Linked DNA regions of Homo sapiens. The protein of the gene in region 1 purifies or fractionates together with the protein of each later gene. This does not show direct contact. Each region holds a gene or a part of one and is shown in the gene's direction. Other genes may lie near its edges.

What was found.
Region 2: the proteins of TMOD2 (region 1) and SCIN purify together in Homo sapiens (affinity purification with mass spectrometry; 3 studies listed by BioGRID and IntAct, with this or other methods). This does not show direct contact.
Region 3: the proteins of TMOD2 (region 1) and RRM2B purify together in Homo sapiens (affinity purification with mass spectrometry; 3 studies listed by BioGRID and IntAct, with this or other methods). This does not show direct contact.

What each region holds. Positions count from the first base shown.
Region 1 is NC_000015.10:51,744,664-51,755,928, forward strand, and holds the start of TMOD2 (tropomodulin-2), read left to right. Parts: upstream 1-6,933; 5' UTR 6,934-7,049; intron 7,050-11,265. UniProt on the Homo sapiens protein: Blocks the elongation and depolymerization of the actin filaments at the pointed end. The Tmod/TM complex contributes to the formation of the short actin protofilament, which in turn defines the geometry of the membrane skeleton.
Region 2 is NC_000007.14:12,571,301-12,582,167, forward strand, and holds part of SCIN (scinderin), read left to right. Parts: exon of another isoform or gene 1-81; intron 82-6,763; coding exon 6,764-6,918; intron 6,919-9,759; coding exon 9,760-9,921; intron 9,922-10,867. UniProt on the Homo sapiens protein: Ca(2+)-dependent actin filament-severing protein that has a regulatory function in exocytosis by affecting the organization of the microfilament network underneath the plasma membrane.
Region 3 is NC_000008.11:102,205,753-102,216,619, reverse strand, and holds part of RRM2B (ribonucleoside-diphosphate reductase subunit M2 B), read left to right. Parts: intron 1-2,461; coding exon 2,462-2,566; intron 2,567-3,730; coding exon 3,731-3,844; intron 3,845-8,334; coding exon 8,335-8,487; 3' UTR 8,488-10,867.

The sequences.
Region 1 (11,265 bases):
TTAGTTAAGAAGTGTTTCCTCTGCTTCTGTTTTCTGAAAGAGGTTGTGGAGAATTAGTATCATTCTTCCTTAAATGTTTGGTAGAATTCACCAGCTAAACCATCTGAGTTATGATAAATGAAACAGAGACTAGAAAAACAATCAAGGAAGTCAACAAATCCAAAAGTGTATTCTTTGAAAAGATCGACAAAATTGACAAACCTTTACCTAGTCTGACCAAGAAAAAAAAGAGAAGATTCAAATTCTAAAATCAGAAATAAAAAAGGGGATATTACTACTGATCTTAGAGAAATAAAAAGAATAATAAAGAATGTTATGAACAACTGTGTGACAACAAATTAGATAACTTAAATAAAGTGAATGAATTCCTAGAAAGACATGAACTAACAAAACTGACTCAAGAAGAAATACACAATCTGAATAGACATAGGACAAGCAAACACTGAATTTGTCATTTTTAAACCTCCAACAAAGAAAAGCCAAGACCTAGATAGCTTCATTGGTGATTTATACCAAACATTTAAAGAAAAACTAATATTAATCTTTTGCAAACACTTCCAAAAAAATAGAACACTTTCTAACTCATTTTATAGTGCCAGTATTACCTTAGTACCAAAACCAAAGACATAACAAGAAAAAAAAACTACAGACTAATATTTCTTATGAATGTAGACACAAAAATTCTCAACAAAATACTAGCAAGCTAAACCTTGCAACATGTAGAAAGATTATATACCATGACCAACTGGGATTTATCCCAGGAATTAATGGTAAATTTAACACCTGAAAATCAATGTATTACAATATATTAACAGAATAAAGGGAAAAACAACCCACAGGACCCTCTCAACAGACACAGAAAAAGTCTTTGATGAAATCCAGCACCCTTTTGTTATAAGAACATTCAACAAAGTGGGAATAAACAGGAACTCCCTCAAACTAGCAAGGGATGTTTACCAGTGAACACCATCCAGAAAGTTAAAAACACACACCACACACACACACACACAATGGGAGAAAACATTTGCAAATCGCATATCTAATAAGGCACTTGTGTCTAGAACATATAAAGAACTTTTATAAATCAATAGCAATAAAACAAATAGTCCAACTGAAAAATAAAGTAGGCAAAGGATTTGAATAGACATTTCTCCAAAGAAGATATAAAATGGCAAGTAAGCACATGAAAAAATGTTCAACATCATTAGTCATTAGGGAAATCATTAAAATCACAATGAGATACCACTGCATATTAACTAGGATGGCTATAATTTTAAAAAGACATTAACGAGTGTTAGCAAGGATGTGGAGAAATTGGAATTTTCACCCATTGCTGGTTAGAATGTAAAATGGTGCAGATACTTTGGAAAACAGTTTGGTGGTCCCTCAATATGCTTCATATAAAGTTACCATATGACACAGTAATTGCACTCCTAGATATATACCCAAGAGAAATAAAAATATATCTGTACAAAAATTTGTATATGAGTGTGCATAGCAACATTATTCATAACAGCAAAACTGTGGAAGCAGTCTAAATGTCCATCCACTGATGAACAGATAAACAAAATGTGGTCTATCCATGCAATGAATTCTATTTGGCCATAAAAAAGAATAAAGTACTAATGTGTATTACAACATGGATGAACCCTAAAAATATTATAATTAGGGAAAGAAGCCAGTCATAAAAGACAACATGTTGTATGATTCCATTTACGTGAAATATCCAGAATAAGCAAATCTAGAGAAGACAAAAAATAAATTTGTGATTGCCAGAGTCTGGGTGTGTAGGGGGAATGAGGAATGAGTGCTAACATGTCTGTGGTTTCTTCTGAAGTTTTGAAAACGTTCTAAAGTTATAATAGATTGGGAGATAGTTACACAACTCTGTGAATATACTAAAAACCATTGAACTGTGCATTTTAAAAAGGTGAATTTATGATATGTGAAATATGTCTTAACAAAACTGTATTTAGAGAGAGAGAAAGAGAGAGAATGGTTTAATAAAGCTCCAACACTCAGCTTCAACCATTATCAACTCATGGCCAATCATTTCATCTATACCCCACCCCACCACTCTACCCCGTCTCCCACACTCGATAATTTTTAAAGTAAATTCCTGATATTATTTCTTCTGTAAATAATCAGTTTATCGCTCCAAAAAGTAAGGACTCTTCAAAAAAATAATCATGATACTGTTGTCACATCAAAAAATTTTTTAAAATAACACCTTAGTCCAGGCATGGTGGCTCATGCCCGTAATCCCAACACTTCGAGAAGCCAAGGCAGGCAGATCACTTGAGGTCAGGTGTTCGTGACCAGCCTAGCCAACATGGTGAAACCCTGTCTCTACTAAAAAAAAAAAAAAAAAAAAAAAAATACGAAAATTAGCCGGGCTTGGTGGCACACGCCTGTAGTCCCAGCTACTTGGGAGGCTTAGACATGAGAATTGCTTGAACCCGGGAGGCAGAGGTTGCAGTGAGCCGAGATCACGCCATTGCACTCCAGCCTGGGTAACAGAGTAAGACTCTGTCTCAAAACCAACAACAACAACAACAACAACAAAAACTGTAATGCCAGCACTTTGGGAGGCTGAGGCAGGCGGATCACTTGAGGTCAGGAGTTTGAGACTAGCCTGACCAACATGGAGAAACCCCATCTCTACTAAAAATACAAAATTAGCCAGGCGTGGTGGCGCATGCCTGTAATCCCAGCTACCTGGGAGGCTAAGGCAGGAGAATCGCTTGAACCCAGGGGGTGGAGGCTGTGGTGAGCCGAGATCACGCCATTGCACTCCAGCCTGGGCAACAAGAGCAAATCTCTGTCTCAAAATAATAATAATAATTTTAGAAAACAGACCTTAATATAATCAAATATTCTGTGTTCACATTTTCCCTAATTGTCTCATTAATGTGAATTTTTAACAGCTGCTTTCTCAAATTAAGATCACACATTACATTTTGTTATTTGTCTCTTGAATTTCTGTGTATCTATAAGCTTTCTCTCCTTTTATTTTTCTTGCAATTTATTTATTGAAGAATCAGTTGTTTGTCATGTAGAGCTTCCTATATTTTGGATTTTGCTGATTGCATCACTGTGGTATCATTTAACATGATCATGATTACATAGTAATTAGCTTTTAGATGTTTGCTGTCAATTATACTACACATACGATTTAATTCATAATTCATCAACATAGTCACTGCTCCTTTAGTCTTTATCATCCACCATATCCTTTGAAGCATCTTTGACACAAATTATCTCAGTTAGTCTTTCTAATAACCCCATGTGGTAAGTATTATTATCCTCAGTTTAAGAGATGAAGAAGGCCGGGCCCGGTGGCTCACGCCTGTGATCCCAGCACTTTGGGAGGCCGAGGCAGGTGGATCACAAGGTCAGGAGATCGACACCATCCTGGTCAACATGGTGAAACCCCGTCTCTACTAAAATACAAAGAATTAGGCGGGTGTAGTGGCAGCACCTGTAGTCCCAGCTACTCAGGAGGCTGAGGCAGGGGAATCGCTTGAACCCAGAGGTTGCAGTGAGCCAAGATCGCACCACTGCACTCCAGCCTGGTGACAGAACAAGACTCCGTCTCAAAAAAAAAAAAAAAAAAAAAAAAAAAGATGAAGAAAATGAGGCTTAAGGGAGGTTACAGAAACTTGGCCATAGTCATTGTGCCAGTAAATATCTGGGTTCAAACTCTCTGATGTTAAAACCCATGTTGTTATCTGTTATATGATAATATCCCATCACATTGCCTGTGGTTTGTGGTGGTTGTTTTTAATCAACTCTAGGAAGCAGTCTTTCAGTCCATCCAAAGAATGTACTTTCACATTTCATCTTTAACACTTAGGATGCTTTCAGCTTCAAGTAACAGAAAACTCCATCTCAAATTGACTCAACAATAAGGTTATTTATTATCTCATATAACAAGAAATCCAGAAGAAGGGCAGCACTGGGGCTGGTTGATGACTGACTCAACAACAATATGGCCGACCCAGATTCATCGTATCTCTTTACAATGGCCAGAACTGGGTCACATGTCCACTCCTAAACTCTTACAGGCCAGTTAAGAGGATTCTATTCCTCTTGTCTATGATAGATTTGAGAGTGTACCTCTCAGAGGCTAATAGGGTCACCTTTCCTAATGTGTAAACACCCATATAGGCTTCTATAAAGAAGAAGAGGGTGGACTGAATGTTTAATAGACAACCAACAGTGTCTACTACCTGTTCCTAATGAGGTGTGCTACATATTCCACTGTGAATAATTAAAATACTTCATTATAACTGCCACGTTGAACTTTTTTCCTTTCTGCCATTTGACAATTACAGTCAATATATCAGCTTCCTCATTTACAGGAAGAAATGGCTACACAAAATGATATGTAAGGTCCCTTCCAGCTCCAGGAGTTCTGTTTCAATTTTACATTTTCATCTTCTAAAAAGCAAGTAGAAAAGTTAAACTTACAAGATATGGTCCAGAAATGATCATGGGTTTCAACTGATAAGTCATAGGCATATTGACATCCTTTCTTCCTTAAGATAAGACATAGGCAATAGATTTAAAGAGCTAAACAGACTGGAACTGGTAATATCTTTCCATTAAGTTTTAACATTAGGTTAAATGTTCTACTTCCCTCACTCATCCTTTAACACCTTCCAGCTTCCAACACTCATCATACAGACAGAGACTGATCAGAAGTTTCTTTTCACAACTCACTTTATTTTGGTGTCAGCATCCTCCTGGAGCATGGCTCTGGGGCTGTAGGATAGCTCTTGTATCTCTGCTTCGACTGCCGAACATGACTTTAACTTAAATCATTCCCCTGTCTGCTTCCTTTCATGGCTAGTTTCTGAAGGAATACTCTATTCGTTTTATCACATGCAGCCATTTTCCTCGTGCAGAACCACGGGAAACCAAAGAGAAATACTGTACACTACTGAGCACCTTTGCTACTCTTTCTTCCAATATGAATGAAATTGCTTTATTATTTTCAGCATATGCCTACTATCAGCTTTCTCTGGGAAAACTGCTGGCTCGATCCGTAAGCAGCCCTGTTCTTATTTAACAGAAGGCTATGACTGTAACAAATGTACAACATAAAAAAGTCAAAGGCATCCTGTCGGTTACACAGGACATTCGGAATAACAAATGTACAGGAAAACTTGGGAACATGACTTAAAGTAATTTGGTCACACCCCCATTTCATTTAACTCTTTCTGGCTCAGATTTGTCATTCTGACAGGAGGCCCAAGATATAGTCCATTACCACAATTGATCATAGAAACAACACTGGTCTCTCAGTCAGCAGCCACTGCGTGCCAGTGTTCATCATGCTAGTTCCCAGAGTTTTAGAGGATTAACTTTACTTTCTGGTTCAACCCATCTGCTGGGGAAGGTATGGCCCTATTTTGCAATGTGCAAAAGGGAGACAGTGCTGGGGGTGCCCACAGTGGAAGGAGAGAAGACAGGCTTACTGAACACCCCTATGACCTTGAATAAGTCACATCACCTCTCTGTGCCTCTTATTAACTATCATTGGGGAAAAATACCTTCACTCTGCCTGTCTCACAAGGGTTCTTGTAAAAATCAAATGAGAACACAAATAGGAAAGTATTTTCATAAATGCAAACCAGTGTTATCATTTTCAGATGTGGAATTTCCTCTGCAGCACGTTTTTTTGGCCACACGATTACTGCACACCTCGTGCCAGACAGACTATAAAGCTGTTTCACCTCTTTTCACATTTTGCCTAAAATTTCATATAGAGATTACACCAGCCATGCTGCATCCATCCCTTTGGTTCATTTTCCTCCACTACATCTGTGAATGCAAATCCCACCATCATGTGAAACACTGCATAGCAGCAACTTGCAAAACTCAACGAACCTTAGACTGCCAAGATAAGTCCCATAAGCAAAGGTTATGCTCAAAATATGCTGCAAAAGTTCAAGAAGGAGAGAGATATCACATCTAATTAGAAAAGGCCTCTGGAAGTTAAATCTAGATGCCATGTATTTTCATAATGTTGGTCTTTGTCCTATGTCACCCCACTCTGCTGTCATGCTTCAGAAACTTGACTTTATTTTCTCTATCTTTGGAGCTCTCAAGAACCTGGCAGACAGAACATCTCAGGGTATATTCAGGGATGAAGTGAACGGGCTCAACGACTAACAAACCCAGTGGATTTTAACATTTACCCAGCCCAACGAGGTCCAACTATCTTTAGGTTAGCACGACATATAGGACTTTCCCGGCCCAAGAACTCCCTCGGAAACCCCAAGGAAGGAACTTTCACTGAGTATGCACTAAGTGCCAGATCCTAAGTGCTATGGGTCGCTTAATCCTCACAACACTTTTTCAAGCTTGAAGCCTGTTTTACAGATGAGGACGCGAAGGCTCAGACAGGCTAAGTTGTCCGGTCTCACCTCAGTGAAGCCGCCACTGCGCTTGGGCTCTCCAGCCCCTCACGCCATCACCCTAGAGCCTTGCTAACTTCCACCTCGCTTACCTCCTTCCCTCCCTAGGCTGCCAACCCAACTACTCTCTCCTCCCACGCCCACGCCCAGCCAGGAAAACCTGGGGCGGGCGGGGTCTGTACCTGAGACCGCTCTCAACGCGGCTTCCGTGTCAGGATGCTCGCTCACAGGAATGCTCATCACAGGCTTGAAAGCCTTTGCCATCCACGCTCTCCGGAGCCCCGAGCGTCTCCAAAGAGCCTGCCCAGGCTTCTCCCCGACCCAGGTGCTTCCTCCCCTGCAGAGCTGTGGCGGGGTTCAGACCCCGATTCCGGGAGAGGACACCTGTCGGGGAAGGGCGGGGCTGGGGGACTGCGGGGCCGCGGCGAGGCTCAGCCGGGAACTACGCTTCCCAGCCTGCTCCGCTGCAGCCGCGCGCCCCGGCGCCGCGCCCGGCCGGGAGCCGCCTGTTGATCGCCGCGCTCGCCCCGGCCACGGCGCCGCCCCTGTTCTCCCGGCCCCGCTCCACCGGGGCTGACGGACTGACGGCCAGCACAGCCGGCTCCGGGATGAGCGCACGGACGGGTGAGCGCCCCGGGGGGCGGGTGGGGCCTGTTCTGGACAGCCGGTGTCTGCAGCCCCCGGGCCCGCAGCGCGGTGGCCGCCGTGCCCTCCCTGCCCGCGGGAGGATGCTCCGCGACATGGGCGGTCGGCCGGGCGGGCGTGCAGAGCCGGGCCGCCTCTCGCCTCTCGCCTCCCGGCCCGGTCGGCTGCGCCGGGAGACCAGGCGCTGCGCCCGGGCGGGAGGCGCCCGCCGGGGTGTGAGTCCCGCGCCCCGCACTGCGGTGCCGCAGCCTCTGCAGCCCGCTGGGCCGCAGCGGGGAGGGCGCGGTCTCCTGTCCTCCCGGGCTGCGGGGCTGTGTTCTTCCACTCCGGGCTTTGTTCCCCCACTTTTCCCCTTCCTGTGCATGTTTGGTGAGCTCCTGGAGCGGTATGCATCTCCCTGCCTCGTTCAGCAGGCGATGGGGAGGGGTGGACTGGCCGGCGTCTTTCCTGAGATCGCTGGAGCTGTCACTCGCAGGGCGTTTCAGCCTCCCAGTAAGCGGCCTCGTGCGGATCCTCGAGAACCTTATTATTATTGTTATTACTTTTCTGGTTAAAGTAATTGTAGTATGTGCTCCCTTGAGGCTTCCTAAATGTTCCCTGTTGACCTGCGGAAATGAAGGTGGATTTTTAAAACAGTAATAAAAGGCTTCTAATGGGAATTTTTAGAGTATTCAGAGGTAGGAAGGTGATGCCGTCACAATGCAAATTAGCAGTGAAGGAGGCCGTGCTTACTGCAGCTTCGTCTGTGCCCATTACATATCTGAATCACGAGGCATTTAGGACGGGAATGAAAAGAAGATCGGGGGAGGTGTTTTAAAAACCAGGTTCTCCTCTTAGCTTGACCATTCAGGAGCTGAGGGACCTGGGCAAGTCCCTCCACCTCTCTGGGCCTCTGCATGTAAAGGGGCGTTTGGGCTAAATGATTTGTAAACCTCTGTTCTTCCAAGATTCTCCCCTCTCAGGGAACTGAAAAGATGAGAGTGTTTCTGTTTAACAGCACTACAAAAAGCCTAATTGTGACAACAAGCGCCTCTACCCTAGTGAGGAGGAAAGATTTTTCAGAGCTTCAGCAATCTGATTTTTTTTTAAAGATAAAACTGATTTTCTCGATCGACTCTCTTCAGTCTAACCCAATAAATACGCATTGCAATCATTTTAATTTTTGTAAGGTACTGTACATTGGTGGGCAACAAAATGATGGGGTTTGTTTTTGTCTTTAATTTGCTGAAGGTGAAGTGATGGGATCAGCAGATAAAGGATTAGTGGCTCCCTAGGGCTGGGCACGAGTGGTCAAATGTGGTCAGCATGGAGGTCGGGGAGGAAGCCCCAGCAAGAAGTAACCAGAATGTGTATACACAGAAAAGAGAAGTTGCGTACTGATGGATCATTGTTTGAAAAAGAAATATGCAATAGAAGGAATGAGAGAATCAGGAACTCGGCGCTCTGCAAACCTAACATAACAGTTGAATAAGGCAAGGACTTACCAACTGGTCCAAAACCTTTGAGTGAAAGGTGGTTGGGGAATAGGATTTTCATATTATTTCAAAGTATCTCACCACAGTTTACTCTGGGAAAATTTGTCCTTACAATGGAGAAATTAGGAGGTCACCACTGGAACCAAATGACCAAGTTTAGCAGCATCTACTGCGAGTCTCCCGTTGTGAAGCAATAAGGAGGCATAATTTCACCTCTGTAGTGTTCCTGCAAAAAGACTTGGCGATGGGGCAGAGCAAATGGGAGCAACTATTGTAGGTTAAAATACTCAAGTGATACAATAGTGAATTGGGATGTGTGAACTTTGAATCCTAGATGCAAAAAAAAAAGCTATAAAAGACAATTTGGAGATAGTTGGGGATGTTTGAATATGGATTGCATGTTAGATGATATTATGGAATTGGTGTTAATTTTCTTAGGTGCAATAATAGTTCATTCTTGTGGTTACCTAGACCAGACAATCCTTATTCTTTGGAGATGTGGATATTGGAGGTGAAGTGTCATGACATCTGCAACTTTCAGCTGTGTCAGAAAAAAAAAAAAAAGGATAGGGGTAGCAGAACAAGTTCAGGAACGTAGCAAATGTGGCAGAATGATGACGGTTGGTGAATCAAGAAGAAAACAAATGTTTATTGTACTATTCTTTTAACTTTTCTATAGATTTGAACTTTAAGAAATGGGGAAGTCAATAAAATAAATAAGCGAATAAAGAGAAAGTGTTGTAGAAGACGGGGGTGGTTCGTGACAAACAGCTGCAGTGAATCTGTGGGGAATTTCTTGGCTTCACCTTCCCAAAATTGAAATCACCTATTGGAGGTGTGAGTGGGGGGGACGGGGGGTTGGTGTTCCCATTTTTGGTTTATCTTGGCTACTCTCAATCATTTATGCTTAAGTACCCCATCCTCTAGCTTCAACTTCAAAGTATTAGTAATTCTCCATACCTAAGAAATTCTAGCCCTACCCAAGAACCATCCCGAAAGTGCTGTCCCTTTCCTCTCTGTGTCCGAGATCTGTGTCAGTGTGTAAGGAAGTTTGAGAACATAGGCAGTGGTTCATTTTATTTTGGGTTAGGGTAGTGTTGGGGGAAAAATGATTTAGCTTTGTGATAGGATAGAAGTTTTGGGGTTTCCTCTCATTCCCTTGTGTGTAAATCATATACAACCAAATGTTTTCCTTATAGACTTTAAGTGGTTCAAAGAGGTTCATAGAAGGCATGTGCAGAAGAGACTTCCTGTTACCAGACCACGAAAACAGAATCAACTCTTACAACACTTAATCTCTTACACGGAATCCCTTGCTGCAAAGATATTTTTGCTTTACCTGGATTATATGTGTTTATGTATACATGAAAATACTAATTTAAAGTATACATATTTACTTGCATGAATGTCTGTGTGTACTTGTGAATCTCTCAGTCAGTATTCCCCAAAATACATAGAATGTTAATGGGTTACAAGAAAAAGAAATTGCCTAGCCAGATGTGGAAAACACTAAACAAAGCTGGACAAGTTGGTTTATTCTTGACTTTTCAGAGCCTTTCATGGGTTAATGATCATTGTATATGGGGATGTAAATGGGGTGGGAATGTCCATAGGATGTGATATGTAATGTTTCCCAAACTGTGTGCAAAAATAAAAAATGAAAAATATCTTGAGGGGCTATCGTTACATGGAACCACCTTTGAGAAACTGCCTTTAATGCATTTTTGAGTGAAAGGTCAGGACATATGATTAAATGTGTAAGTTGTAAGTATTTGTGCTTCACATTACTTACAGATTAGAATTCAAATTTCAGTTTCTGGTTTTAATGGATCATAACAGTTTGACCCCAGTCTACTTTTTCATCCTAAATTTCCTAACTTTCTTCCTATAAATTCTCCTGCTTAGTCCTTTGTTGTATACTATGAACCATTTTTATTTTCAGCACACCAAAAAGTCAATTCTACGTAACTTTAAGGCTTCGTGGTTGTGTAAAATGAGATGCGCTCTTCTGCTATGGCTCTTCCATGGACTGAAATAGCCACCTTTCCTCCCAAAGCCATTTTGAGTTCCTTGGCCTTGGTCCCATGTTTCAGCACAACCTTCCTTAAAGCTGTGATTTCTTGCTATTTCTGCTTTTATGATTTGCCATCCTGTTTTGGCATCAAGGCTGCCCCACTAATTACCTCTTTCACATGTGTCATCACTATTCCTAGGTTCCCCTGGTGAGAGCTAGGTAGGGTGGGGATGAGAAAGTCAACTCCAGGACTGTGAGTGGCAGGAGCTCACAAAATAGGGCACAAGGCCAGCCATGCCAAGCCTGGACATGAGGAGAAAGGAGACAAGCTGGGGCACAAGCCCTAAGAAAGGACCAGGAGGTCCCTCATCAGAGTGGTTAGAGGAGTGTGGAGTCCAGTGAGCTGGGCTGCTATTCAAGCGGTGTGCATGGGGACAACTGTCCTCATTGTTGATAAACAACCATTCTGACTGGGCAGTGTCCCTTCTATACCAGTTGCTAAATGTTTTGCACATCATCTAGGTAAGCACTCACAAGTCAGGGTGCATACAGCATCCATAAGTCATTACAAAACCTGGATCAAAACCTAGCTGGTATAAAATGCCAAAGAAAGAGACAAGATGAGTGAGTCAAAGACCACATAAGCAAGCAGAAGAAAGGAGGGCACATGAATCAAAGGACAAAAAGCAGGAAACCCGGTGCCAAT
Region 2 (10,867 bases), on another chromosome or scaffold:
CTTGTCCAGGGCCGCTGCCTCAGCGCACACCGTCTCTGGCCAAGCCCCGCTCACCTTCCGACAAACTCAGTCCTGCTTTCCCTGTCGGGATGGAGAGGAAGTCATAAAGTCTGGGGGCATCTGCCGCCGCTAGGAAGAAGTCCTTTTCTTTTTCTTCACACATTATTTTTATTTGTTGCTTTCGGGCACTGGCTTATTTTCTCTATGATTGCGGGAATTATTGTTCTGGGCTTCTTTAAAACAGGATTCTACCCGCACCATGCTGCTTGTGGGTCTGGTAGACAAAAACTCCGCTTCATTCGGAAGCTGGCGTCCTCAGATAGAAGTAAGAAAAAAATACAGATATTTTATATACAAATAAATAGCTCTATATGGGTATTTCATATATTTATGTAGACTGCTTTATTGTTATTATTTATTATTTATTTTAGCAAGGACACAAGATGGAACAGAAACGGCTCCTTCAGCAGTAGTAATTATTTTGAGCTGCGTTCGTGCCAGGCTGTCAGGACACTGGGCCTTGTGTGTTCTTTTTCCACCTTCTACTTTTACTCATAAACATCCTGAATGTCCAGCCTCTCCCCAGGAGGTCTTGTGCCAGTGGGCACACCCTGTCTAACAACATGCCGATTCTCTGAGCCTTTTTGCCTTCTTTTAAAACTAGCTAGCCTGCCCAGTACTCGTGTTTGTTTAGTTTTATCCCTGAGCTTAGGAGGAAAACACACAAAACCACACACACTTACACATTTTTGAGTCCCTGAAAGCCAACACTGTAATTTCCAACATTTGAAGATTTTAAGAAACAAAATAATAGAAAACATTGAGTAGTGACTGTCTAAACATTGGCAAACACCTGGAACAGGCATTTGAGAAATGAGAAATGAAAAATACGTAGATGAAGATAAGACTTTTAATTATAACATTTGGAGTCAAAAATTTGTGTTAGCTTGAGGAGGCAGAGAAGGCTCAGCCTGAGTTCTGAACACATTTTGGCTTCTTGATGCATTGCTGTTATTCCTATTATAATGTTGTAATACACAGTCATCTATTTGTATTTTCTGCCAGAAAAGACTGAAACTTTTATAACCCATGTTCAAGAATGAATGATGCCAGATAGAATAATGATGTCCTTACAGAGGACTTTCCATGCAGAACTTAAATCTAGCATGAATGAAAGTGTTTGAAATGCCACATTTGCCATTTGAGTAAATTAAAATGTGAAATAATGCCATATCTTACTGTAGACAGCAGTTAAGTTTGACTTTGTCAGATGACCGCAAGGGAGATTTGAACACAATTCTTTAATTCTATACATTTTTATCCAAGTTGTCCTCTTAACTACTATATTTTGTAGGGTTTACAGATTCACCTTATTCACTTAATTATCTACTTAATTATCCACTTGATGCCCATAAATTTCAAAAATATAATAGAAAATGGTTTGGGCAGAAACATTTATAATCTTAAAGACATGCTAAAACTGAAGTCAATAACATGTTAATAACAAGCAAATTCATTCAGTAATTATTCAATATGGCCAGTACTGTACAAGGCACTTGTGGATATGAATAATTAATGAAACTTCTCTAAAAGTTCATCACCTCAAAGGTGCAAAAAGACAAAAAGTGATATAACACAGGTAGAATGTGATAATTACTGTGAAAGCACAAAGTTTCTGTGGTTATTGGGAAACAGAAGCCTTTAGAGAAAAAAAAAATGAGAGTACTTGGAAGTGTTCTTGTGTCAAGAGAGAATTATGGAGAGAAAAAAAGCTTCAAGTAAAATAGTCAACAGGACTTTCAGATGGGATTGCCCAACAGCTCTTCCTACTTCAGTTCCCTAAGAAAACAGAATTTCATCCAAAATAGTGTAGTCTAAGACCTAAATTAGGATGAATCCATGAGGATTCATCAGAGAGACAGATTGAGAGAAAGTCACAGGAGAGAGAGCTGAACTTCCAGGGGAAAAGAACATTTGGTTAAAGGAAATCAGCCGGAAGAAAGAGAAACTAAAGTTAAACTGAGATGAAAAAAGGTGCATAGCATAGAAATGAAGAAACAGGCCAAATGGGAGGCAAAAAGGGGAAACAGGAAGAAGTTGGACCTAGAACAAGAGAGAACAGAGCAGGAGAGTCGTCTTTCTTGGTCTCTCCCTCAGTGTTTCCATAACACTTGGCATATCTCAGATTATTTTATTGTATTAACATTACATGCTTGAATGTATTAACATCATATGCTTAAATGTAATGAAAGTAAAAATTTATTGCAAAGAACTTAAATGTTATTGCATTAGCCCTTCTTTAAAAACATTTCAGCTTTGCACCTAGCAGTTTAAATGCATCCATTCACCTCTGTTTGTAGTTCCTTATAGCACCAAATCAATGGGTAGGTCTAGATAGTAAAACTGCTCCCTGTCACATCCCTAACCTAAGGTACAAACACTTATCCTCACTCTTTCTCTTTGCCAGTTTTAAACTTCACACAAATATATTTTAAAGCAGTATACATTTATGTTATAAGTGGGCTATACCAGGCCTTGTGCAATGCCCTGGGAATCCAAAGGATTGGATTACAATATACGATACAAAGAACTTATACGAAGGACTGGCTAGAAACTGGATCATTTACATTGCTGGAGCATGGGGGTGGGTACATGCAATGGTACAGCACTCTGGAAAAGAGTTTAGTAGTTTCTTACAAAACCAAATATACTACTACCATATGAGTCAGCAATTGCATTCATAGGTATTTATTCCAGAAAAATGAAGTTTTGTATTCACATGAAAACCTGTACCTGAATGTCCACAGCAGTTTTATTTGAATAAACAAACACTAGAATCAGCCCAGATGCTTTTCAACAGGTGACTGGTTAAACAAGTTGTACATCTGTACCAACTAATACTACTCAGCAATAAAAAGGAACAAACTATTGATACATACAACAACTTGGATGAAGCTCCAGGGAATCATGCTGAGTGAAAAACCCTAAGAGGCTTTATACTGTATGATCCCATTTATATAAAATTTTTGAAATGACAAAATTTTAGATTTGGCATTGCCGTTGGTTACAGATAGGGTGAAGAGGGGATGATGTGGGCAGGAGAAGAGTGTATTATAAAAGGGCAACTTGAAGGATGTTTTTGGTGGAACTATACAGCATCTTGATTGTGATAGCAGATGTATGAATTTACACATGTGATAAAATTTTATAGAACTAAATGCACACACACACGAGTACAAGTAAAACTGAGAAAATACGAATAAAATAGGTGGATTATATCAATGCCAATATCCTGGTTGTGGTGTTCAGTGCTATACTGTACTATACATTAATATGTTAAGCTATACTGTAATTTTACAAAGTTGCCACTACTGGGGGAAATTGGGTCTATTGATCTGTGTCTATCCTTCAATAGTACCAATCTGTTTTAATCACGTTAGCTATGTAGTAAACCTTAGTATCAGGTAGAGTGATTCCCCCCACTTTATGCTTGTTTGTCAAGATTATTTTAGCTATTCCAGGGCCTGCGCCTCACTATATAAATTTTGCAATAAGCCTGTATATGTCTATAATAAACCTTACTGTGATTTTGGTAAGAATAACATTAGGCCTATAGATCAATTTGTGAAGGATTGACATCATTATTATGTGGAGTCTTAAAATCCATGAACACTAAGCGTTTACATTTACTTAGGTCTTCCTTGATATTTTGAATGCCATTTTGTAATTTTCAGCATACAGATCCTGTACATGTTTTTAAACTATATGCCTGAGTATTTCAGTTTCTTTGGAGTGATTGTCAATAGCATTGCGCCTTTAATTTCAGTTTCAGCATGTTCATTGTTTCTATATAGAAATGTGACTGATTTTTTGTATTACTGATGAATCTTGTATCCTGCTAATTTGCTCAATGTACTTTTTATTTCTAGGAGAGTTTTCTTTTTTTTTTTTGGATAGGTCTCTTAGAGTTCACTATGTAAACAATATTGTTGTCTCTAAATAGAGACCTTTTTATTTCTTCATATTCAATTTGTATGCCTTTTTTTTCTTTTTCTTACTTTATTGCAGTGGTTAGAACTTGCTGTACTATGTTGAATAAGAGTGGTGTGAGTGCACACCCATTTTCTGGATTTTATGGGAAAAACATTTAGTCTTTTACTGTTCAGCATTGCTAGCTCTGTGTTTTTTGTTGACTCTAATTATCGTTGGAAGGTGTTCCTCTCTATTCCTAATTTGACTTATTTTATTTTATCATGAATGGCTGTTGGATTAACCTAGTTTTAAATCTCTCTTTTTATCTATAAAATCATTACATCCACAAAATACTTATAGAAATTCATAGGATGTACACAAGTCTAACATAATATAAAATAACACGGCACAGCATAGTATAACAGAACATAAAAGACACCGGTAAAATCAGTGTAGGGAAACAACAAATGGAAATCATAAGCAGATTCGTAGGGGAAAACTAAACTGATTCTTAAGCAGACTTTATACACAAAGTTCATAAGTTTCTAAATACTTTCTGGAATTCCATCATGCTACAACTGGATTTGATTCTAATTTTCGCATCCAAAGGCTGACATTGGCTTCATCAAGACCGTCAACCTCATTCAGGCATCCTGTTTTATTCATACAGATATTCCCTGGCCAACCACATTACATAAGCATCAGCAAATGATAGGATAATTTAATTAACTTACTTTCAGTTCATTCATTAACTTCATGCCTGTCCATTTACATCTACCTAAAGAGATTCAGGTTTCAACCTGTAGTCAGGTAAGGACGTTTATGTCAAATACATCATCTTTAACACCTTTGATGTTAACCTTGATTCCAAGTTATCTCTTAAAGCATCTCTCTTAAGGCATCATAAAAATCTACATCTACATCTTTATGGTATTCTCAGTTAGGGTTCGGATCCCAAATCGGCAGAAGAATGACACCAGAGTCCTTTCAGATTGCAAAATTGCCGGTGTGTCAAATACTTAACTTTGACCACAGCGAGTTCACAAAATTGTTATCACGTCAAGTAATCTTCTAGCTACTGAGTTGTTTTTTTTTGTTGTTGTTGTTGTTTCCCCTCAGAAGATACTTGGTATATGAGTCTCATTTGAGAGTAAGAGGGAAATTGTAAGGAAATCTGATTCTTTCTTTAATACAACTGACTGATTTGCCTTCTTCAACTTTGGTGAATACTGTCAGTTAGGGTTGTTCATGTGAACTATTAAATTATTACAGCTTCTAAGCTTTTATGCATCAGTTATCTATGGAAGAAATTAACATACCTTGTCACTATAAAATTGTACCGCTAATGAGAGCCTGAGTACAAAAAAATACCCACAAGTGTACTGGAGTTTTTAAGAACCTGTGCTTCAGAGTCACACAAACCTACATCTGGTCTTTTTCTCCCAAAAGTTGCTTTATGACCTCAGAAAAGTTACCCAGCCTCTCTAAGCCTCCATTTTCTCTGTTCCAATCTAGTAGAAAATAGGTTCTGCTTTATGAGGTTGCTTGAAGATTAAATGAGATCATCCATGTAAAACATTGGCATAGTGTCTGGCCCATAGGGGTAGTATAAATGTATAATGTTGGCTATTATTATTTCTAGAGTCATTTAAGATTTTTATTACAGCTTGGATGTAGTAAAGAGTTTGAAGTGTTTTCCATAAAATGTGAGTGCCCCTCCTGACTGTCCGTACTGTATCCTTTATGTACACTACAGACACTGGTTCTTAGGAATTGTTTTGACCTTAGTGAAGTTACCTGGATGTGATGTGTATTACAATTGTGAAAATTAAATGTATGTTGTATGTAAAATACCTGGAACAATACCAAGTACATTAACACTTAATAAATGTTAGCGTGCTGCTTCCTTTGCTCTTCCTTTCCTCCAGAGATCATTATTTCATTCAAACAGAACCAGTCAGATAGTGAAGTAGGGAAAAAGACCAAAAAATAGGGGTAAAATTAAATTATATTCATTTTCCCATTGTAAAAACCACTTATTTAATTATGGCTCTGATGCTCATATTTCTCACAAACATCAGTTAACATATTGACATATCATAAAATCAAAGATTTATCCTAATAAAGGCTAAACCACTTGTCAAATGTTTTCATAGTCTGATCTTATTGACCTTACCAAATTAATGCTTACTTAAATCTCATTGGAATAGATTGTTTTATCTTCTTGAGCAACTTCACACAACAGTGTTTCTTTTTAAAATTTTTAAAGGAATTGGAAAAAGCAGAAACAAAAACAGGCCGGGCATGGTGGCTCATACCTGTAATCCCCAACAATTTAGGAGGCCAAAGCCAGAGGACTGCTTGAGGCCAGGAGTTTGAGACCAGCCTGGGCAACATATGGAGACCTTTTCCCTACAAAACACTTTTTTGAGAATTAGCAAAGCATGGTGGCACGCACCTGTAGTCCAAGCTGCTTGTGAGACTGAGGTAGGAGGATCGCTTAAGCCCCAGAGTTTGGGGTTACAGTGAGCTATGATTATGCCATTGCATTCCAGGCTTAGCAACAGAGCAACACCCTCTCTCAAAAAAAAAAAAAATAGACTAAAAAAATTGTTAATTATTAGCAAAATAATGTATTACATACAGTATTTTAGCTAAAAGATCTTTGTGTAGAAGACTGTTGGATTGATACATAATTGAAATGAAAATTTCTGACTTCTTTCATATCAGAAATTCTGCCTTAATCCTTTCTCTTGCTTGATAATTGAGGTGCTGTTGTTCACTGTTTTAGGAAAGGAGTGTTCCCAGGATGAAAGCACAGCTGCTGCCATCTTCACTGTTCAGATGGATGACTATTTGGGTGGCAAGCCAGTGCAGAATAGAGAACTTCAAGGATATGAGTCTAATGACTTTGTTAGCTATTTCAAAGGCGGTCTGAAATACAAGGTAAGCAGCTCCCTCAGTTTCCATTATGAATCCCTTTCTCCTCTTGTCCATCCATACCTCCTGTCTTCATAGAATGACAGTTCGTTGAGGGCAGGGGTTTTTGTTTTATTTGCTTTTGTTTTAATCTGTTTTGTTCATGGATATATCCCCAGTACCTGCTGGATACAAAGTAGGTGTTCAATAAATGTTTGTGAAATGTGTGGTACAATATGTGAAATATTGTGAAAATTTAATTTGATAGGTTAATTTTTTAAAAGAGCTTTCAGTTGTGTCTTCACAAGATACCTTTGTAATATTTTGTAGCTATTTCAACATTTAAATTTTGGTAATTTGGGTCTTAAAAGTTTTCATTTTTGCTATTCTAGAAAATCTCTGAAGTTTCTGCAAGTAACCTAAGCCTTCAAAATCTCAGTTGTTCTGGAATATATTAATACAGTATTTATAATAATTATAATTTTAGTAACTGTAAAGAACTATACATGTATTTCCAAAATAGTGTGGTTTGATCTTAGAAGGGATGCAGATGAAAATTTTGAGCTTAAAATTCTGCAGGTAAACTACACACACGCACATACACAATTTATGCACACTGGTCTGAAACACTGATCAATTGGCTTTACTTCTGAAAATAAACAAGAACAAATAGTTAAATGGTTCTATCCCTTTAAGGCAGCCTTCAGTATAGGACAGGTTTTTTTTTTTTTTTGGCATCCTCCTAGTTAGCTTTCCAGACTGGCCCTCCCTTCACCATTCCTGCCACTCACCCCTCCACACGTGTTCAGTTAAAGTGTGAGGAATACCCTCCCCAGACAAACATCACAGATTTCCGAAATCAAACACGCTCCAGCAAGTGTTCTGCACACCCCACTGCCCTGCCCTGTGAGCATGCTACCCTAGTGAAGACCTGAAACCTTAGAGCTTCACTACAATTCTGACTGTAATACTAAGTCCGCCTACTAAGATGGCGAGGTTTATTTATACCTTTACCTGTTCAGAGTCTTCGTTGAATATTTTGTGATATTATTGAGATCAGAACAAAACACTTATACATTATAGGTTCTCTTATGTCTCTTGAAATGATTATTTTATTCTAGGCTATGAACTACCCTAAATACAAAACTATTACCTCTCATTTTATTTGATTCACAGGAGCTCCTACAGTTTATGACAAACGATACTGAAACTTCCTTTATGTCAGTGAACTCAACATTTTAAATAAATTGAGTCTTGTAGTTACTAAAAGCAGGTGCTGTGACACCATCATAGTTATGAACCCATTTCTGCCACATATGACTTGTTTGCTTTAGGGAAAATACTGAGCTTTCTGTGCTCAGTTTCCCCAAACAATGAATATTATAACAGTTTCCTCATACAGGTGTTGTATTAAGGAATAAATTAAATAATAAAGTAACTGTAGTCGAGCATGGTGGCTCATGCCTGTAATCCCAACACTTTGAGAGGCCAAAGCAGACGGATCACCTGAGGTCAGAAGTTTGAGACCAGCCTGACCAATATGGTGAAACTCCCTCTACTAAAAATACAAAATTTAACTGGGCGTGGTGACATGCGCCTGTAACCCTAGCTACTAGGGAAGCTGAGGCAGGAGAATTGCTTGAACCCAGGAGGCAGAGGTTGCAGTGAGGCGAGGTCATGCCATTGCTCTCCAGCCTGGGAGACATGAGTGAAACTCTGTCTCAAAACAGGAGTACATAGATGAAAACTTGTATTTATTTAATTATATAATACTTAGTTTATTCAACCAAGAAATGTAGCAGTCGTTGTAAAATTATGGACTGGGAAATCATTTTATATTTTTTTTTAATTTGAAGTTTTAATTGTCCTGAAATTAACATTTAATCTATACCAACTTTTATTGGAGAACGGTGGAAATTTAAAATCAATGGAAAAGAATGTGCTAATGACAAATTAGCTCTAATTTTCCGTACCATTATTATTATAGAGGTCTTTGATCTATCAGTGACAGTTTTGTTTATACTGTAGCTCAGTTATTCACATATAATTAATTATAATTAATAGTAGAAATAAAGATATGGTTCATATCATTTAATTAGAAAAAATGAAAAGGTAAAAGATCATTGCAAATAATATAAGAAGATGTAGTTGATACAGTTAATATCTTTCTTTAATTCGGGTGATTGTATTTCATTTTATTTTATTTTTTTTGTTTGGGGATGTACAGCCAAGATATTGCATCTCTCCTAGCTTACAGTAAAAACACTCAGGCCTAGCATATTTATTAATAGTAAGACCTGTTTACCAGAAAATAAAGAAGACATTTGATTACTTTAAATGTAAAAACAAGGACCATACATAAGATCAACCCATTCCTGGCCAGCACTCAACAACCATCTCTGTCCCAACCCTGTACCAGTGTGAACTTTTGGGTGCCTTCTTCTCTGGCTGCTGTCATCTGTATGTGTTACTTCTGACCCTCCTCTAGCCACCTGTCACCTTCTTCCCTGAAATCTTTGCCTTGCTCATTATTGATTTGGGGATCATTAGTGTCCAAAGGGCAAGAGCTATGGCATCTTCTTTTTGTTTTTGCAGCAGCGTTTTATACACTGAAGGTTCTCAGTAAATACTTGCAGTTGTCAATTGAATGGTTAAAACAGAAAGAATAAAGAGACCAAACAAACACAATCTGTTGATTACCAAGGGGTTCTCTCTTGTTTTATGGAATAGGTGGCTATTTTAACTTGGCCTGACAGGTACAGTTTTGGCACAAACACCAGCAGTATTATTGTGCTTTGCTTTGTCTAGGCAGACACCTCATCAGTTTTCTCTTTGTTTTTTGTGTGTCTGTCTTCCCTCATTCATCAGGCTGGAGGCGTGGCATCTGGATTAAATCATGTTCTTACGAACGACCTGACAGCCAAGAGGCTCCTACATGTGAAGGGTCGTAGAGTGGTGAGAGCCACAGAAGTTCCCCTTAGCTGGGACAGTTTCAACAAGGGTGACTGCTTCATCATTGACCTTGGCACCGTAAGTTTCATATATACACATCGATGTCTAAAGAAAAGTGAATTGCTTTCGGATCAAATCATATGTACATGTCATTGAAAAGAATCACTTTTTCTACACACCAGAAAGGGGCCACGTTTATGTGAGCTGAGTAATTGCCAAGTATTTAAATGACGCATGAAGTGAGACTTCAAAGTTTTTATTTTCTTTGATAGGTTTAGAATAGTGATTTAGTTCTTCCTACCATAGAACAGAAATTGACTAATTTTTAATACATTTCCCCTTCTCTCTGAACAGAGCTTCCTCTAATTATTTTTGTCTCTAATTGTGCATGGGAAAACATAGCTTGAGGGGGAAACTGGTTCCCCCAGCAACAAAAGGTTCTAGAATATAATATGGACATAAGATGAATCTAAACAGCCACCTAAAGAATTTTAAAGACATATTTTGATGTACGTATATACACACACCATACCATTTCACACTTTTCAATTAGCACAAGTACAAATATCAAGTATTATCTTAATGGCATGGGCAATGGTATATTATATCTGACTTATGTTTTCTTCCTGGAAAAGACGCTCCTCTAATATCAGGTATACTTATTAATCATTACTGTCATGACAAAGAAGCATTATTTCAAGACCCTTTGCTAGACCCTAGAAGGTAGAATATAAGTTGTGTCTTTAAAACTTTGTGAAGTTTTTATAATAGAAATAAAGAGCATTTCCCTCCACTGAAAAGCCATGTGCAAAAGCAATGAAAGCAAGAAAGCACAGAACTTATAAGGCTCTCCTCTTCCTGCTTTTCATTATCATCATTTTCATCACACCATACATCTCAACATTCTAATTATCATTCCTAACATTTCTGGGCCAAACGTTGTAACGGAGTCATGAGCTGACCTGCATTGCTTCAGTTAGCATGAGGCTTGTCTATGGAATTTGCTCAAGGTTGCAAAGTTAGT
Region 3 (10,867 bases), on another chromosome or scaffold:
CAGTAGTCTATTATACTTAAAGGAAGGGGTCATGCTTGCTTGTTCATTGGTTTATTCCCAATGTACAGTGACTGATTGGGTCCTTTCAACAAGTACACCTTTATAGCATTTGTTATATTTATAGCACAAATATAATATAAAATACAAATTTGCTTATATTTATTTCACATATTTTCCCAATTTATCCTTTGCTTTTTAATTTTTGTTCTTTTAACATACAAAACCTTAAATTTTATGTAATCCACTTCCAGAGATAAATTAATTACACATTTTTTTTCTTGGTTTTTTAACCTTTAAGTCTGTAATGCAATTGGAATTTGTAAAGTAGGATTTAGCATAAATATAATAAAGAATAAGTTAGAATTTAATTTTATTTTAAACACTCTTGGGAAGTTTTTCCAATTTGCCTTGTTAAGTAATCCATCATCCTTTCTTCATTGACTTGCGCTGTCTTCTTTATTATCTATTAAGGTTTTATTAGACTAAAATCGGTTTCATGGCTATTTTTACTTCCTTATTGACCTATCAGATTTTATTCTATAACAAACCATTTTAATTATTATAGTTTCATATATTTTAATAATTTGTAGGATAAATATCGAAACTTTTCTTTTGAAAGTGTTCTTACAAGATTCTGTCCGTTTATTCTATTCTTTTTTTTTTTTTTTTTTTTTTGAGACAGGGTCTTTCTCTGTCACCCAGGCTGAGTGCAAGTGGTATGATCCTGGCTCACTGTAGCTTTGACCTCCTGGGCTCAAGCAGTCCTCCCACCTCAGCCTCCTTAAGTAGCTGGAACTACATGCATGTACCACCACATCCAGTTAATTAAAAAAGTTTTGTAGACGCAGGGTCTCACTGTGTTGCCCAGGCTGGTCTGGAACTCCTGGGTTCAAGTGATTTCCCAACTTGGCCTCCCAAAGTGCTGGGATTACAGGCATGAGCCCCCGTGCCCAGCCTTCCAGATTAACTTTTGAATTAAAAACAATCCCATTTAGGTACTTGACCTCTGTGCCCGCTTGGGACTCTTTGAAGTGTACTTTTCTTTCTTTTCTGCTCTAAAGCCTTTTAAAATAAATTACAAACACACACACACCAATTCCATTGGGATTTTGATTGGTATTGCTTTCTGTAATAAGTTACCTGTCAGTTTTCATCAACACTTTAACATCTTTCAGCCTTGATGGTAATTTCTTCTTTCTTCCTTTTTTTTTTTTGAAACAGTCTCACTGTCACCCAGGCTGGAGTGCAGTGGCGTGATCTCAGCTCACTGCAGCCTTGACCTCCCAGGTTCAAGCAATCTTCCTGCTTCAGCCTCCTGAGTAGCTGGGACTACAGGTGTGCACCATGCCTGACTAATTTTTGTATTTTTTGCAGAGATGGGGTTTTGCCAGGTTGCCCAGGCTGGTCTCGAATTCCTGAACTCAAGGAATCTGCCCACCTTAGCCTCCCAAAGTGCTGTATTACAGACATGAGCCACCATGCCCAGCCTGGGAATTCCATCTTTCTATATCCGACCTCTCTCTTTTTTCATGTTGAATTTTTGAAATTTTCTTTTTTTTTTTTTTTTTTTTTTTAATATTTAGCTCTATACTATCTATTCTGTGTTTTGGAGTCCTGATTATTGTAGGTTGACTCTCCTTCACCTATTCTCCAATTACTTAAGATTCTATTGCATTTGTATAACCATACTCGGGTATTTCACAAGTTTATTTTCATTTTTGGTTGAGTTATCTGTAAGATCATATCTGCTTTGTATGGCTTCAGGCGATATTCATCATTGTTCAGTTTCCATTTTCTTATTTATTTATTGGTATTTTTTATTTACTTCTATTTATTTATTTATTTATTTATTTTTTATTTTTTTTTGTAGAGATTGGGTTTTGCCATGTTGCCCAGGCTGGTCTTGAACTCCTGGACTCAAGCAGTCTGCCCACCTTGACCTCCCAAAGTGCTGAGATTACAGGCATGAGCCACCGAGCCCCACCTCAGTTTCCATTTTCATTAGAACTGAATTCATTTTTATCTTGAGCCTTTCTTATTTAATTATAAATGTATTTTTGAAATCTGAGTTTCATCTGTTATTTAAATACTAATTATTTTTCAATCATTCCTTAATTATTTTTGAAATTTAAAAATTAATGAATTTTCATTTCAGGCTTTCTTGCTTTATTTTCCTTTCCAAAATGCTTTTATTTGCAGATTTTGTTTGTTCATAAATTAATTTTTCTATAATGTTGATGAACTAAGATTTGCTGGCATTGAAAATTTTTATTATAGGTTATTGTATTGGCATTTAATGAGATTTGAAAGAAGGAAGTTCCTAGTCCTATTAACCCCTCTTCCATTTTCCAGAAGTTCTGTGTTATATTCCTAGAACCACTTTATACAATGCTTGACCCATCACCATATGCAAATAGCTGATTAAAAGTTATTTGACAATGACATTTTTCTTCCCTTTTAGGGACTTCACTGTGACTTTGCTTGCCTGATGTTCCAATACTTAGTAAATAAGCCTTCAGAAGAAAGGGTCAGGGAGATCATTGTTGATGCTGTCAAAATTGAGCAGGTAAACCGGGAAGTTTGTGTAATTAGCACATCTCTCTTTCTCTGATGTTTGTACCACTATTATATTGACTCATAAGAAATTCTGTAGGTCAATAAAAATACCAGCAATTTTATTCTGGTCAGCCTGACAATACCAATACATGATATATTACAATTATTATGTCAGTTTACAATTTGCTTTAGTAAGTCAGTCTTTATTATATATTAAGGTTTTATGTATACTAAAACCTGTTTCAGGGCTATTTTTCTGTCTTATTGATCTCTGTCAAATTTTATGCCATGATCAGCTAATTATAGTAGCTTTTTTTTTTACATTTTTAGTGACTGGAGAACAGTGATGATTTTTTATTTGTTTTGTATTTTTAATAACGTAGCAAGGTACCTAGCTTGAAGCATACACAAATTTTTATAGAATGAATAAGTAAGTTAATGAAAAGTAACAATTAAGTTAGGGTATGTACGGATTTCTTACTAGAAAGAGCTAGATGCGCTACTTAGGATGTGTTTTTATCATTCTGAAATTGCTTTTGTTTTGGTAACACTGCGTAGTTTAACAGGCGTAGTTTGTATATTGAAAGAGGAAAAAGGCATAACAGGTACTTTGGTATCTTTAATCATTTTGAGAACTAAATCCAAGTGGTTAATATATTTTTATTTTTCCTCTATTAACGCTTTACCACTATATAGTCTTTCAGTATGGTTGGAGCTATTTTATCTCCCAACCCCCAAATCTGTTTGTTTCTTTTTTCTCATTTTCTTTGTTAATTGAGTTTTTCTTTCTTTCCCAGCTCCCTTCCATAGTCATGTTCTTCATGATGATCATCTTTGAATCTTTTTCCAGATATTTTAGAACAAAGTATCTTTTTTTTCTATTGAGAAAGCATACGAATCCGAGTCTTATATCTGCTACTTCAAGAAATCCAGTAATTTGGTAGTTCGTTTCCATTTATTTTGGCTCTTCGAAAACATGAAAAAATGTGAATAGTTAATACCCCAAATGTTTTTAAATATACGGACATCATTTGCCACATTGAAAGAATTTATCCTAATATACTTTCCTTGGACAAAATCAGTCTTAGAAATAAAACGAAAGTCCTCTTTCTATTTGGAAAATACATATTTATAGTTTTGTTTGTACTTTATTCTGTTTTTGTTTTCATCCCAGGAGTTTTTAACAGAAGCCTTGCCAGTTGGCCTCATTGGAATGAATTGCATTTTGATGAAACAGTACATTGAGTTTGTAGCTGACAGATTACTTGTGGAACTTGGATTCTCAAAGGTAATGTGTTTAAAAATGTGTTACTACTAGTTAAAATATTATAGGAAAGCAAGGACCCTAAAGTATAATTTACTGAAAGCATTTGTAACATACTATTCTATTTTTTAAATGTCAATGACAGAGACTTGTTTTGTATGAACAAGGTTTTGCAAAATCCTTTGAAATTTAAAATTAATAACTGAAGTAGGAGGCTGGTAAAATATTAGAACTAATAAGCTCAATAAATTATTTTGCAATAATTGTAGCTGTATATTTAATAGGATTATTTTCAAGGAGTTAGGTTTAATATGCATATATATATTCACCCTCATATAAATCGCCATGTGTCTATATTGTGGTTTGGGAGTTAATACTTTTAAATAGGGAATAGTTATTAGGAAGACATTAACTGTCACAATATAACTCTTTGAACAGAGTTATTCAAGTTATTTTTGTCATTTATCAGAGATAATGTACCTGAATTTCATCAGTGCGGTTTTCCCATTACTTAAGACATGGAGCCTGCAGCCACACTATCTGGGTTTGAATCCTGGTTCCACCACTTTCTAGCTGTGTGACCTTTGGCAGGTTGCTTAACTATCTCAGTTTCCTCATCTATAAATTAGAGATAGTAATAATATTTACTACAAAGGATTGTTGATGAGTTGATACACTTAAAGCACTTAAAATAATATTAGACACATAATAAACTCACACTAGATGGTCACTTTGTACTTAAGTGAAACACAGAAATTCACTATGTACTATACCATGGTAATTAGAAATACAGATTTTGATTTCTTGTCATGAAAATGTAAGTTCAAATTATCTTTAATGAGAATCCTTATGAAATCTATGATGCTGTGGTAATCATTACCTATCTTGCTAATGTTGTATTAGCAGATATAGCAGAATTATATTCTGATAACCACCCAGGTACTTAATGAAAAAGTCAAGTGGGGCGTAGGTTTTTTTGGTAAGATAAACTACATTTTAACATTTTAGTTGCAAGATCCTCTCTGTGTTTACTAATTAATGAGAAATCAAGATTATAACTATATTAATATAATCTCTTAAACTTATAAACTATGTATATTAAAAGAAATTGTGTTTGTTCATAACTTTTACCAATATTTTTGTTATTAGAAAATGAATTTGCTTATTTAAGCCTTACAGTGAATTCGCTATTCTTTAACCCATTACCATATCCTCACATCCACACGTTCATGTTCTGCTGCTTATTAGAAAACTGCTGACCCTTGGGTCTAATTTTCCTTTTGGGAACTTGCTAACTGTAGGTATGTAAAACATGCCACCTCCTGCAGGAGAAGGTCTAAACACAATGTAAAACTTTGTTTTTCCACAGGCTTCAAAATATCTGAGTAAATTCTAAAAAGCAGAAATTATAGAGGCCTTAGATTTTTAATGCAATGAAAGTAGAAACTGATTTAAAAATTGCCAAAAAGCTTAATCTACTTAGAGATTAAAAATATATCCGTTAGGCCAGGTGCGGTGGCTCACACCTCTAATCCCAGAACTCTGGGAGGCTGAGGTGGAAGAATCACTTGAGTCTAGGAGTTTGAGACCAGCCTAGGCAACATGGCGAAATCCTACAAAAAATTAGCCAGGCCTGGTGGCATGCCTGTAGTCCCAGTTACTTGGGAAGCTGAGCTGGGAGGATCACTTGAGCCTGGGAGGCAGAGGTTGCAGTGAGCTGAGATTGTGCCACGGCACTCCAGCCTGAGCAACAGAGTGAGACCCTTTCTCTCTCGCTCTCTCTCTCTCTCTCTCTGCATATACATGTATCTCCTTTAAAATGAGATTTAAAATGAAAATAAAAATTAATTGAAAATATAAAGTAAATGACAATATGATTACTATGTATCAAAACTTGTAGGAGCTGGGCCTTGTGGCTGACTCCTATAATCCCAGCACTTCGGAGGCCAAGGCAGGAGGATTGCTCGACCCCAGGAGTTCCACACTAGTTTCAGCAATATAGCAAGACCCTATCTCTACAAATAAAAATAATAATAAGGCTGGGCACAGTGGCTCATGCCTGTAATCCCAAAATTTTGGGAAGCTGAGGCAGGTGGATCACCTGAGGTCAGGAGTTCAAGACCAGCCTGGCCAACATGGTGAAACCCTGTCTCTACTAAAAATACAACAATTAGCTGGGCATGGTGGTGGGTGCCTGTAATCCTAGCTACTCGGGAGGCTGAGGCGAGAGAATCGCTTGAACCCAGGAGGCAGAGGTTGCAGTGAGCCGAGATTGTGCCATTGCACTCCAGCCTGGGCAAAAAGACCGAAACTCTGTGTCAAAAAAAAAACCCACCAAAAACAAGCCACTTAATTTAGTTTGTTTTTTTGGTCTTGGTTACTTTGTCCATGCCATGAATGACTTAGATCTAATTTTTTGAAAAGTCTTCAGTTCTAACATCTAGTGAGTCTATGGCTATTGGTTCAGTGCCCTTTCACTGTATCTTGCTGTATATTACAGCTCCAATATTCCCTCACTTTTTACACACAATTTCTGATGGAGAATTTCATAGAATTTCACTCAGCCACACCCAGCATATGAGTTTTTGGAAAAAAGATACATAAATATTTAAAGCTTTATTTAAAGATTAAGTCACATAGCATGCAATTCACCCATTTAAAATGTACAATTCAATAGTTTTTAGTGTAGTCACAGAGTTGTACAACCATCATAACAACCTATTTTAGAACATTTTTATCACCCCATAAAGAAACTGTATCCCTATTAGCAGTCAGTCACTCCTCTTTCCTCCCCTTACCCACCTTGCCTTAGGCAACCACTAATCTAATTTTTGTGTCTGTAGATTTGCCTATTCTGCGTCTGTAGATTTGCCTATTCTGCATATTCTATTTCATACAAATGGAATCATATAATATGTGGCCTTTTGTGGTTCTCTTCTTTCCTTAGTGTGTTTTCATGGTGCATTCATGTTGTAGCATGTATCAGTGCTTTATTCCTTTATATGACCAAATAAATAATATTCCACTGTATGGATATACCAAATTTTATTTATCCATTCGATGGACATTTAAGTTGTTTCCTCTTTTGATCTATTGTGAATAATGCTACTATGAACGTTCATTTACACATTTTTGTGTGGACATGTTTTCATATCTCTTAAGTATACACCTAGGAGTGAAATTGCTGGATCATATGGTAACTCCATGTTTAATCATTAGAAGAACTACCAGACTGTTTTCTAAAGCAGCTGCACAATTTTATATTCCCACCCTGTATGAGGGTTCTAATTTCTCCACATCCGCACCAACACTTATTACCTGTTTTTTAAAAAATTATAGCCATCCGAGTAGGTGGGAAGTGGTATCTCATTGTGATCTTGATTTGCATGTCTCTAATGGATAAGGATGCTGAGCATCTTTTCATTTTGTATATCTTCTTTAAAGAAGTATCAGTTTGTCTATTTAGACACTCTGCCCATATTTAAAATTGGGTTACTTGAATATATGTTTATCTGTAGTGTTCATATTTTTTGCTGGGATACTCCTAAATTGAGAAATCCTCTTTTGTTACTCCTTGTGAATCACTGAAATATCCCACAGTTTCCATCAAGCTGTATCTCCAAGTCTGCTTCTTGAATTCTTTTTTTTTTGAAATGGAGTCTTACTCTGTTGCCCAGGCTACAGTGCAATGGCATGATCTTGGCTCACTGCAACCTCTGCCTCTCAGGTTCAAGCAATTCTCCTGCCTCAGCCTCTTGAGTAGCTTGGATTACAGGCATCTGCTACCACGCCCAGCTAATTTTTGTACTTTTAGTAGAGACAGGGTTTCACCATGTCAGTCAGGCTGGTCTCAAACTCCTGACTTCAGGTGATCCCACCTACCTCGGCCTCCCAAAGTGCTGAGATTACAGGCATGAGCCACCATGCTCGGCCTTGTTTCTTGAATTCTGAAGCAGTAAAAAAGCTTCTTGTTAGCATAGTCCCCCTTTTTGTTTGGAGACATCTAGTCACTATGGATAACATTTATTCTGTCTTCCCTGATCATGTTCCCTTAATGACAATTTGTTGATTATCTGTTCTCTTATAAACTAAGAAACATACTTAGAACCACAGTGGATTGTTGCTAATTTAACATTTTATAGTATCATGTATGTCTGACTAATAGTAATATCTATGAAAAATGCTCATGGTGTATTGGATATCTCAAGCTGTGAGAACATTTTCTATTGGTTAGTATTAAATATTTCAATTCCTGAAATAGTTGTGTTTTTTTTTCTATTTATTAGAATACCAGAGATGCTAGTACAGTTTCTTGAGGAGATTAGTGGTTGATCTTGGGTCATCTTAAAATTTGTCAGCCTTGAGTACCTCCAGGGTCTTAGGGGAATGATATGATCTTGTAGCTGACTAGATAGGTTTTGAGAAACCTGACCTCTGTTTTGGTCATCTTTGCTCTTATTGTGGATGTAATTTGATCTCTTCAGAATGTCTAATAATATTTCTTTCCTTTTTAGGTTTTTCAGGCAGAAAATCCTTTTGATTTTATGGAAAACATTTCTTTAGAAGGAAAAACAAATTTCTTTGAGAAACGAGTTTCAGAGTATCAGCGTTTTGCAGTTATGGCAGAAACCACAGATAACGTCTTCACCTTGGATGCAGATTTTTAAAAAACCTCTCGTTTTAAAACTCTATAAACTTGTCATTGGTAAATAGTAGTCTATTTTCCTCTGCTTAAAAAAAATTTTAAGTATATCCTTTAAAGGACTGGGGGTTTGCTCAAAAGGAAATCCAAAACCTATTCTAAACAATTTGCATTTATATAATTTTCCTGTTTAACAACAAGAGTGTGACCTAAATGCTTTTGTCTTGTCACTGAAATAAAAGATGGCATTATGTGGTTAAGAGCATGGGGCGAGGGGTCAGACATGAGTCTAAGGTTCTGCCCTTACTCCAGTGTGTGACCCTTGGCAAGTCAGTTAATCTTGGTAAACCTCGGTGTACTTATCTTTAAAATGGGAGTAATAGTAGGTCCTAAATTCATAGAGTGGATATTAGGATTAGGATGCAAAAATAAATGCTTAACCAACACTACTACTGTTAGCACCACTACTAATTATCATTCATTGATAATATTAATTGCAATGATGTTGTAATAAAATACTCTCATTTCCTTAAAATAATTGTGATTCTAGGTCCTAGGATCTAGAATTAGATCTTTGTATTTTTAATGCTTAGGGGAAGAATATAAGTATCTCCTTAAAAAGAACATAATTCTCATTCACGCAAGAATAAGTTCTTTGAATTCCTTAGTATGTAGTGAAGAAAATTTAGTTGTTAGTTGCTTTGGGAAGCCTACTTATGGAGTGGAAACCAGGAGGTTATCATGGTAGTTGACCTTATAAGAAAAATGATTCTTCTTCAGAAATTAAAAACATAACTATTGCCAGATTTAGCTCTGGAATGTTTAGAATCAGGCTAGAATAGCATTTTCCAAAGAATATTCTAAGAGCTATTAGCTCCTCTAGATATTTTTTTGGGGGAAAAAGGGGATTCTGTGGTCAGATGAGTTTGGGAAATGCTGAACACTTCATTCTTCTTTAGCAAGTACAGTCAGTACATCAAAGACTGAGCAGTTCAGTGGTACATAAATTTATCTCGCCCTGCATATTCCCAACATACTTAACACAGATGTTTTTTACCTGTTAACATCTCACCCAGCTAGTGTTCCTCAGAACAAAGATTGGAAAAAGCTGGCCGAGAACCATTTATACATAGAGGAAGGGCTTATGGACTGAGAAAGGGAGAACATGGTAGGGATTATTGAATCATTTCAAATTTATACCAGCCTGAATAGTGTACCAGCAATTGACTTAGGCTGTGTTTCTTTATGGTTTTAAAACTCTTGAGCTGTTATAAGAGATAGTTCTTTTAATGTGACTATGCAACATGATAGCCAATGGTGAGGGAAAAGGAGGTTTCTCTAGAAGAGTCTGATGAAAGGCCGGGAACCAAGGTTTTTGAGAAGTCTGCCCCTATTTATTTTTAGTAAGTATCAAGAGGTAGCCTGAGCCTAGTTAGAGTTAGACCTGTCTTTGGATGAAGAAGTCTTAATACTGAAATACTGAATTTTTAATACATTATTATTTGGTATTCTGTATACCCCTTCAAGCAGTTGTTTCCCATTCCCAACAAACTGTACTTTATACAATTCTGGATGCTAAAACTTAGAGATTTTCTCTTTGCATAAATTTTGGCTCCATTCTTTCCATAACAATCTAATCAAAACTGGGAGTTCTCAAGTGAATGCAAAAGGAGCAGGCCATAACTTTATTTGTTAGATACACTGTCAGAAACTTGAGATCTTTTGGCCTATGATAATACCATTAATTTTTGCATTGCTTCAGTTTGCCAAGTGTTTTTACATCATCTCATTTGATCTCAAAACAGCTTGACAGAGCAACTGTTATTGAAATATTACAGATGGAAAGAATGAGGCTCAGGGAAGTTAAATGACTTGGCCAAGATCTGCTCATCGTCACTGTCTGTACAGTATTTTTTTTTAGAGGTTGTAATGTCTCAGATTTAGTCCTTTACCATCTATGTTGATTTGCTTTTGTCTATTTCCTCATTAATTGAATATACTTTAAATATATATATTAAAGTATCAAAATATAGAGAGACATTTGAACTGTATTCAGGTAATATGTTTAAAGATATTTATATATTGCCATACAAAAACTTAACATTTAAAACTGATAATATCTGTAATGACATCAGAATGAAAGAAAAAAAATTGTACAGTGTATATTCCTTTGTTTTGAATCCAAATCTTTTTCATAGGTAATGACAGATGCCTTAATGTGAAGCTTATTTATAATAGCAATAAACCTAACTGGATTTGGATGAAGAAGTCTTAATACTGACATACTGGATTTTTAATGCACTGGTTTGTTATTTGGTATTCTATCTCTTTTTCCAGGCCTCCAGGTTGCACATTTATTTATTATGTTCAATACTTTGGTTCTTAGTTCTTAAAGAATCAAGAAG